Linked DNA regions of Homo sapiens: region 2 is linked to region 1. Evidence: fine-mapped expression QTL. Tissue or cell type: skeletal muscle. Region 1 holds a variant in brackets; the other region holds the start of a gene. All regions are shown on one strand. Distances are from middle to middle.

Evidence for each region.
Region 2: it holds the start of GADL1, and the variant in region 1 is fine-mapped to the expression of GADL1 in skeletal muscle (GTEx, PIP 0.99).

Annotation. Positions count from the first base shown.
Region 1 is chr3:30,715,519-30,719,918 of GRCh38, reverse strand. No RefSeq gene overlaps it. Among named protein-coding and RNA genes, the nearest start is that of TGFBR2, 110 kb to the right of the region's middle. The variant G/A (reference allele first, on the strand shown) is at 2,455.
Region 2 is chr3:30,892,139-30,896,538 of GRCh38, reverse strand. It overlaps GADL1 (glutamate decarboxylase like 1), which reads left to right and starts at 1,878. Exons shown (of 15, transcript NM_207359.3): 1 at 1,878-1,961. The coding sequence starts at 1,925.

The DNA.
Region 1 (4,400 bases):
TCTGGAATTTGAAATTCTAACTGATAACAATGTAGTACACAAATAGTTCAAACTATGGTTCATGTGGATGGTGAGTCCTAAACAATTTTTATTCTGTTATTTGAAAGCTTTGAAGTTTCTCTGGGTAAGTCATGCTCTGCCGGAAATGAAGGGATGAGAAGATTGTTAAACCGTAATGGAAACACAGCTGTTCTCTCTGCAGGTGTGGTTCCTTTCTGCTGATGGGCTGGGTACAGAAAAGGATGAGCAATGGATGCTTGAGCAAATGTCATTATCTCAACTCCCCTCTCTTGGGACGCATTTAAGAACCCATGCTAAATAGAAAAATATGTCTTTCATCTCATATCTAAGTTAACATGTGGGTTGAATTTTTAGTTGAATGACTAGATCAAGTGTTCAAAAACCCCTCTAAGGCCTCTAATTTGGATCTATAGGAGAGAATTTTCTCATTCTGGGACGAATATCCCCAAATCAGTGTTTTACTGTCCGTTGTCTGGAGCCTGTGAATCAGTTTTGGTATTCTCACATCTTTGAGGGCAGAGCTATGCAATCCAACCTGAATGGCTTCTGGGGGGCTTTTACATTCATGTTATAGTGACTTGCTGGTTTGCATATCGCCCTAATCTGGTATGCAAATTGTGAGGAAATGTTAAAAATCTTTACTCTCTGCAAGCTCAGGATATCCATATGTAGTTGTAGCTGAATAAGGTATAGGTGAGAATTTCTGCATCTCTTCTCCTAATGTGAACAAACAAGGGTGAAGAACAGATCCTAGAGATTATGAATAAACTAATTGTGTGGCACCCAGGCCTGTTCCACCCCTACTATAGCTAGCTAAATCAGTGAAATAACAGTCACGTGATTAATCCTGCATATTTATGCTCTAGCATAGTGTTTCCAATCTCTATTGGTCTGAGTTTTAAGATCATGGAAACATCTTAATAGATATAGGTTTCACACAACAGCTCTTCTCCTGGCCTATGGTGTATGTATGTAGTTACAGATCAGGGACTGGATTATAGGTTGAAGGCATGGTACTTTTAGGGATGGGGCTGACTTGGTCAGGATGTTTGTCAAGTGTTGGCAGCAGGTCTGGGTTCTCCAAAGCCAAAAAGGAAGTATAAGATTTTTAACTGAAATGCAGTGACCACCACTATACTTTACATCTTGGGAAAAGAGTAGATTGAATGCTGCATAGGCCAAGCCTAAACAATAAAATCCAATTTCCAAAGATGGAGAGTAAAGCAAGAGTTAACAGAGCCTGGTAGAGCTACAAATACATAACTTCCGAAAGAGATCAAATTGGTACCAAGGTCATTGACCTGAACACTACAGCCAGTGTTTAAGCTTCCCCTTCACAGGTCAGCAGTTTAATATACGTGATGTGTGTGGATCACACTATTCTAAAGGACCAATAGTAAGGGTGCACTATTATGAGTAAGGGCATTTGTGGAATATTGATGCAAGTCTTTGACTATGGGTAAGTGGAAAAAAGGATTGTCATTACCAGAGAAATTTGGAAGGAAGCTTAGTTAAGTAGGCAAGTGGTGAATGAATTTGGATGAGCAAGTAACTTCCAAAAAGAGATATGATAGAATTCAGAAAACTGAAACACACTGACAATCATAACTTACTACTGCATATGAAAACCGAAGAAAAACTGGATCACCAGCCACTGTGCCAACTGCCGTCTTCTAAGAAGCGCCTGGTAATTAGAAGTCAATGGTTGGCATTTATGCTGCTGCTGCTGCAGCTCTCAAATCCCGTGGTTGCTGAATGTTCTGTGATGCTGCTTTCTGTAATCATAACTAAATGTCTTAAAGTCTTAGGCCTGATGCTCTAAATGGGTTGCCTTTGGTTCTTATCTTCAAAATAAAAAATCCAATGAATATTCTTCAAAGAGTTTGCTGAATTAAGAGCACTAGCTGCATGTTTGGGTGACTTTGGACCCCATTGTGAGTTTCATTGCTTACAGATGATTTTTCTTAATTTGAAGAGTAATTGCCCATGAAATCCCTTTTCTCTCTTTTTCACCAAAACAGCCATTAAATGCTGAAAACGAGGAAAAAATACTTAGCCACAGTTATTCCGGATCACAAGAGTCAAGCATATTTTAGGTTTCACAAAGATTAGATATCAGTTTGCTTCCTGGTAGAGAGTTGACCTGAGTAAGTTACAGTGGTGAAGTAGAGCATCAAACTCAACCAATTTAAGCTGCTGTGGGCTTCTCACGAACTTAAAGGACAAACCTGAATCACCAGGAAAGAAATGGAAAACATCCATAGCATATTGGGAGAAAAGGGAGTAATAAACTGACCTCACAGAGTCAGAAAAAGAGAGAGAGAGATTAAAGGGGGTAAGATTTAGTTGTGGGTAGAAAATATAAACAGTTATTTTTTAAACATGTTATAGTGCTTTACGTTTACCCAAATATTCTTTCTTAAATAATCCTGA[G/A]AAGTATTATTTTATTAATTCAATCACTTATGTATCCTGCATATAATTTTGTGCTTCTGTAATTCAACTCTGCACTGGAAACAGCAGATATTAGCAATGATTGTTGGATATATAGATAATAAATGAATAAATATAAAATAATTTGATGTTTAGATGAATTAAGCACAAGATTGACTTGAGAAAACTGTCAGAAGTAAAATAAATGAACAGAGAGATAAAAGGATTGGGTGATAAAATAATAGATGTAAAAGCTAGAATTAAAGTATTTAAAGAAAGTGTTCCATTTCTACAAGATGGAGTAGCAGGAACCAAATTTATTCTTTCACATGAAACAACAAAACAACAGGGCAAAATATATTAAATAAGTTTTTAAGACATTGGACATCAGGTAATGAAGGACAGTGATCCCTGAGAAATAGGAAGCTAATGAGGTGAACCCAATGATTGCTCCAGCTTAATGAATGAGAGGTGTTTTTTGTTTGTTTTTTAAGTGTGGCACAGGAAGAGAAGCCAAGATGGATCTCAGAAGACTCTTTGAGTTAAAGAGACGGATTTGAAACACTGGGAGACCAGGTAGCTAGAGGATTGGGACAGATTACTGAAGAGAAAAGAGCTACATTGAGAGAAAATTCTGATCCGCAGAGAGTCTCCCTTGAGTCTTCAACAGAGTACTGATCAGCACATGCATGTAAGAAAACTACCTGAGGCTGAAGAAAGAATTCCCTTAGAAGGTTTAAGGAAACAGTGTCCAGTTCTCATACAGGGCCTGTAATATTGCCTCCTTCTACTAGCCAGGCTGAAAAACCTCATGATTTACAAGACATTGGGTAGAATACTTAGAAAAGCATTGGGTAGAATACTTTAAAAAGCCTTGCCTCAATAGTAGGACAAAATTAGCCTTAGACTAAGATGTCTGGGTTGTGTCTGGTCTTATTACTGATGATGTTAATGTTGATCACTTGGTTAAGGTAGTACCTGGCAGGTTTCTCCATTGTGAAGTTTACTGTTTTTCCCTTTTCATGCACTATTATTTATAAGTGAGTTACTTATGGAGGAGAATTAAGCTCCATTTTTGGAGTGAGGAGTATAAAAGAATCTGTAGACATAAAGTAAAACCACTAACAATAATTAATAAATATTTTAGGGGAGATTTTTAAGGCTATGCAAGTATCCTATTTCTCCTTACAGTTTTGCTCACTAATTTTTGCAGTCATCAGTGGATGCTGCCAGCTGCAATTATTCCTGTGGTGTTCTACTGCTAACTTTTGTTTGTTTGTTTTTTGAGACGGAATCTCACTCTGTAGCCCAGGCTGGAGTGCAGTGGCAGGATCTCGGCTTATGGCAACCTCCTCCTCCCAGGTCCCAGTTCAAGCAATTCTCCTGCCTCAGCCCCCTGAGTAGCTGGGATTACAGGCACACACCACCATGCCCAGATAATTTTTGTATTTTTAGTAGAGACGGGGTTTCACCATGTTGGCCAGGCTGGTCTTGAAGTCCTGACCTCATGATCCACCCGCCTCGGCCTCCCAAAGCGCTGGGATTACAGGCATCAGCCACCGCACCTGGCCCCACTTTGTATTTCTGTCATCTCTTTTACATTTATCAATTGGAATTATTTTGTAAGAAAAACATGCATTTCTCCATAGTTATTTATGTATTTAATTTTGTACTTATATCAGTGTGGACTCGAGGATATTCATTTTATGCTCAGGTGGTTCCAGGTTTGATCACTGGGAGCTTTCACAGATTGACTTCTGTGTCCTTTTGACATGCCCTCACCTTAGAGGTTTATATTTATATCATTGATCAAATTTAGAAAGTTTTAACTCATTATTTCTTTAAATAGTCTATTTTTCTCTCTCTTCTCCTTCTAGGACTTTCACAATGTGTACATTGATTCACTTGATGGTGTCCCAAAAGCCAGTTCACTTTTCTTTAATCTTTTT
Region 2 (4,400 bases), 180 kb before region 1:
GCGCCTGGCCTATAGAAACGTTTTATAAGTTTTTAAATTTGTTACAATAAGCTAGGATTAATTTATTATTAAATAAAGGAAAATATTTTAATACATTTAGTATGGCCTAAAGGTACAGTGTTTATGAAGTCTACAGTAGTGTACAGTAATTTCCTAGGGCTTTCATTCTCACTTAATACTGCCTGCCTTACTCAGAGCAACCTCCAATCCTACAAGCTCCAATCACGGTAAGTGCCCTATGCAGATGTAACATGTTATTTTATCTTTTATACCATAATTTTGCTGTATCTTTTCTATGTTTAGATACACAGTTATTTACCATTGTCTTACAATTGCCTACACTAATCAGTGCAGTGACATGCTGTACAGGTTTGCAGTCTGGGAGCAATAGACTATACCATGTAGCCTAAGTGTGTTGTGGAATTTACCATCTAGGTTTGTGTAAATACACTCTAGGATGTTCGCATGATGGATCGCCTCGATATGCATTCTCAGAATGTATCCCCATCATTAATCAACACACGACTGCACTTCTTTCAGTATATTTTAATAGAGTTACAGAAGATTAACTCCTAGTGTTATTTACGTTTTCATCACTAGATCTCAGTGATATTTCTGCTGAGACTGGATACAAAAGAGTATGTGGGGTTCTCAGAAACTTACACAGTCTTTCTGAAATTTATCTGCAGGGTCTTGACTTTAGTAACTCTGGTTGTTGGTATATTAGAAATAATCTATTCTTATTTGGAAGAAAGGTCTGCCCTGTCTTCACCGATGTGAACTATAATTATGCTTGCCAGAGGAAAAAAATTCACCTGCTAAGAAGTGACACTAGGCATTTGCAAATGTAAAGCGATTTTCTTTTTTTTAGTCCATTGAGATCTGGATTACAAATGCAGCTCCGTAAATGTAGTTGTCATAAATGTGCTTTGAAATGGCATTAACTGATTGTTTCTATCCCATCGACAGCCTCAGTTAAAAGCTCCTAAGGGAATTTAACTTTAAACATAAAGCCTGTTGGAGGAATGACAAAAATGCCGCATTCACTAATTAAATTTAAATTTACAATAGGAACGTGACTGAAACTAAAATTCCAAGGGCTTGCTGGAGCAAACACAGGGAGAAAATTTTACTCTAAAGACTAGACAAATATTGAGCCTTTTACAACATTTCACCTTTTACCACCTCCTTTTGCTCATTACTATAAGGTAACAACATGCCCAGCACCCCCTACCATTTCCCTTTTCCAAACTTAAAATTTTGCAGAGGCACACACACACACACACACACAAAGTTGAAAGTGGACTGGGAAAAGGGATTCACTTATAGAACTCTTAAATGTCAGGGCAGAGCTGAATGAATGGGTAGTGGATCCTGTTCACCACAGCTGCCCTAAAATAGGTTCCTTCAGCTGATGACCTGGTGCAGGCATCATATTTAGCCTGGGGCTCCTCCGGCTGGATGAGGCTCTGCGAAGTGGTTACTCCAAAGAACTGGACGCTGGAAAGGTCACCAGGCCAAGAGCCACTTATCTGCCTTGCCCAGCCTGTATCCTAGGAGGGCTGGTAGGGTGCTCCCTGCCTTTTCCTACCCAAATTACCCACGCTCCTACACACTTCCCCACCCCTTCCCCGCAAAGGCGGAGAGACCCTGGCCCTGGGTCAAGCCTGTGGCAAAGCAGCCAGCAGCGCTCCAAATATTAACAGAGAGCCGCGGGCTGCAAAAGCCTGGCACTGGAGCCTTGGATAGCAAAGTGAAAGGAGCACGGAGCGCGCGCGTCCTCGTCCCTCCGTTTGCACTGGTGTTCTCTCCGCGGCTGCCTGGTGCACCTGCGGGTCCCCCGGGGGGCGCTGCCTCGGCAACCACCGTCGCCGCCCAGACTGCGGGAGCCGCGCCCGGGGCAGCCTGGAGTGGGGGAGCGGAGATGAGCAGCGACTCGGACCGCCAGTGTCCTGTGGACGGTAACGACTCAGCGCGGCTGCGGTTTTTGTCCTTAACCTCCCCTGTCTGGGTTTTAATCTCCTTATTTTTGACCTGGGGACTAGAAGTTTGGTTATTTCTTTGTAAAGCGGCTGGGGTGGGTAGAAAGTCCCCATCTTCATGGATTTTTTCTCCGTTTTCCGTACCTAAAAGGTTATTATTTAGAATCAAATGAGTTAACTTTTATAAAGCGCGAAGAACCGCGCCTAAGACATAACGGGCGTTTGTTAAATAAATGCGTATTGAGATTTTACTGCTTGGCGAACTGCCGCATGTTTCCCTAGTTAGATTGGAAGTACCTGCCCTGTAAAAAAGATGATTTTGCTTCTTTCTGGGGGACAAGGACAGCATCATCTCAGTCCTTTCACCTGCAGCCAGCTATTCTATAAACAGGGGTTAAAAGAGGCCACCGTCATCTCAGAGTAGGTGATGCCCTTAATGTTCTTTGGTTCAGAGCTGCAGATTGAGAACGGGGACCTTAGTTGTTTAAAGATCGTATGCAGCAGAATTCCTCCAAACTGTCTTTATAACTCAGGTGCCACTTAGTTCTATTTCTGTAAAATAATAGTTGCTGCTTCTTTGAAAGGTTATCATTATTGTTATTCAGGTATTCTCACTAACTAGTTGTTGGCGTTTTAGGAGTGATCCTCCAGGAATAACTCCTCTTTGTATCAATAACTTTTTTGAATTGTGCTGAACACAGCTTAATGAAGTCTCAAAGTTGAAGCTCTCTGGGGGCATCTGCTCAACAGGTAGGTCAGGTAACTCAGCTGGGGTCCCCTGCGGATCAGTCATTTTCAGGGCTGGGAATTTTGCACAGTAGTTGGTGAGGCAGAAACCATTTGGCTGAAACAAATATTTCACCTTTTAATGTCCCAGGGAGAGTTTCCAGCATAACTGTCCTGACGCTCTTTTAAAAAAACTTTAAAACTTGTACTATCATTATTATTTTTATATATGGCATAATAAAACCTGGCACTTAGAAGTAGAAAGTTAGAATAGTGGTTACCAGAGGCTGGGGAGCGGAGAGGGCTGTAGAAAGGTAGGTCAATGGGTATAAAGCTGCAGTTAGTAAGAATAAATTCCAGTGTTGTATTGCACAGTAGGGTGAATATAGTTAATGATAATGTATATTTCAAAAAAGCTAGAAGAGAGGATTTCAGTGTTCTCACCACCAAGAAATGACAGGTGTATGGTAATTACCCTGATTTGGTCATTAAACAATGTATGTATGTGTTGAAGCATCATATTGTAGCCCATAAACAGGTACAATTATGATGTCTCAATTAAAAACAATAAAACTTAAAAAGAAGAAAAACAACTGACACTGAAAACTGCTAAGGCATTTTGTCAGACTCTTAATGTTTCTAGGGTCAGCACATACTTATTTAAATATTTGGTTAGGCTGGGCATGATGGCTCACGCCTATAATCCCAGCACTTTGGGAGGCCGAGGTGGGCAGATCGCTTGAGGTCAGGAGTTTGAGACCAGCCTGGCCAACATGGTGAAACCCCATCTCTACTAAAAATACAAAAAATTAGCCGGGCGTGCTGGTGGGTGCCTGTAATCCAGTACTCGAGAGGCTGAGGCAGGAGAATCGCTTGAACCTGGGAGGCGGAGCCTGCAGTGAGCCAAGATTCGCGCCACTGTACTCCAGCCTAGGTGACAGAGCAAGACTCTGTCTCAAAAAATAAATAAATAAAATAAATATTTGGCTATTTGAGAATGGATTGAAAAGTATAGATTATTTAGGAATCCTAATAATACAGGAGACTTCTTTATGTGAAGGAAGGATGGTTAAAATAGTTTTATCTGACCTTAACCCTGCTGTTTTGTTTTTAACCTTAATTCTTGTTTTAAAGCCATATAGCATAGTCTTCAGAAATATGATAGAAACTTTTAAAAACAGTAACAAAAAAACCAAGGTATCTACTTTTCTTAGATTAAGCATGTACCTTGTAACAAAGCATGTCTGTAGCTTGTGGTGGCTTTGGTAGCTGAATATATGATTTATAAATAGTAAAGTTCAAAGTTTGCCTTAAATCTGAATTTCTGAAAACACCACAATTCTTGGGTTGCTCTCTGGTTATCCTTGAGCAGGTGATAAGGCAGCAACACACCTAATTATGCCAAATGCTTGCTATGGTATCTTAAAAGAGTACAAGACAACTATCTGTCAGACTAAGTAATCCTCCAAGTATGTATGATGAGATCCTGAAGGTAACATTGAATTCGTATGTTAAATGATATCTTGTCTTAAATTCTCTTGTTGAATATCTGTTACAGACCTATACATTACGGAAGAATACCATAGGGAATCCTGTTGCAGATAAAGAATTCTTATTCTGCTCTTTATGCTTTGATATCTTTTATGATCTTGCTGTAGTACATGCAAGAGAGGTTTAAGCAATTAGTTATAT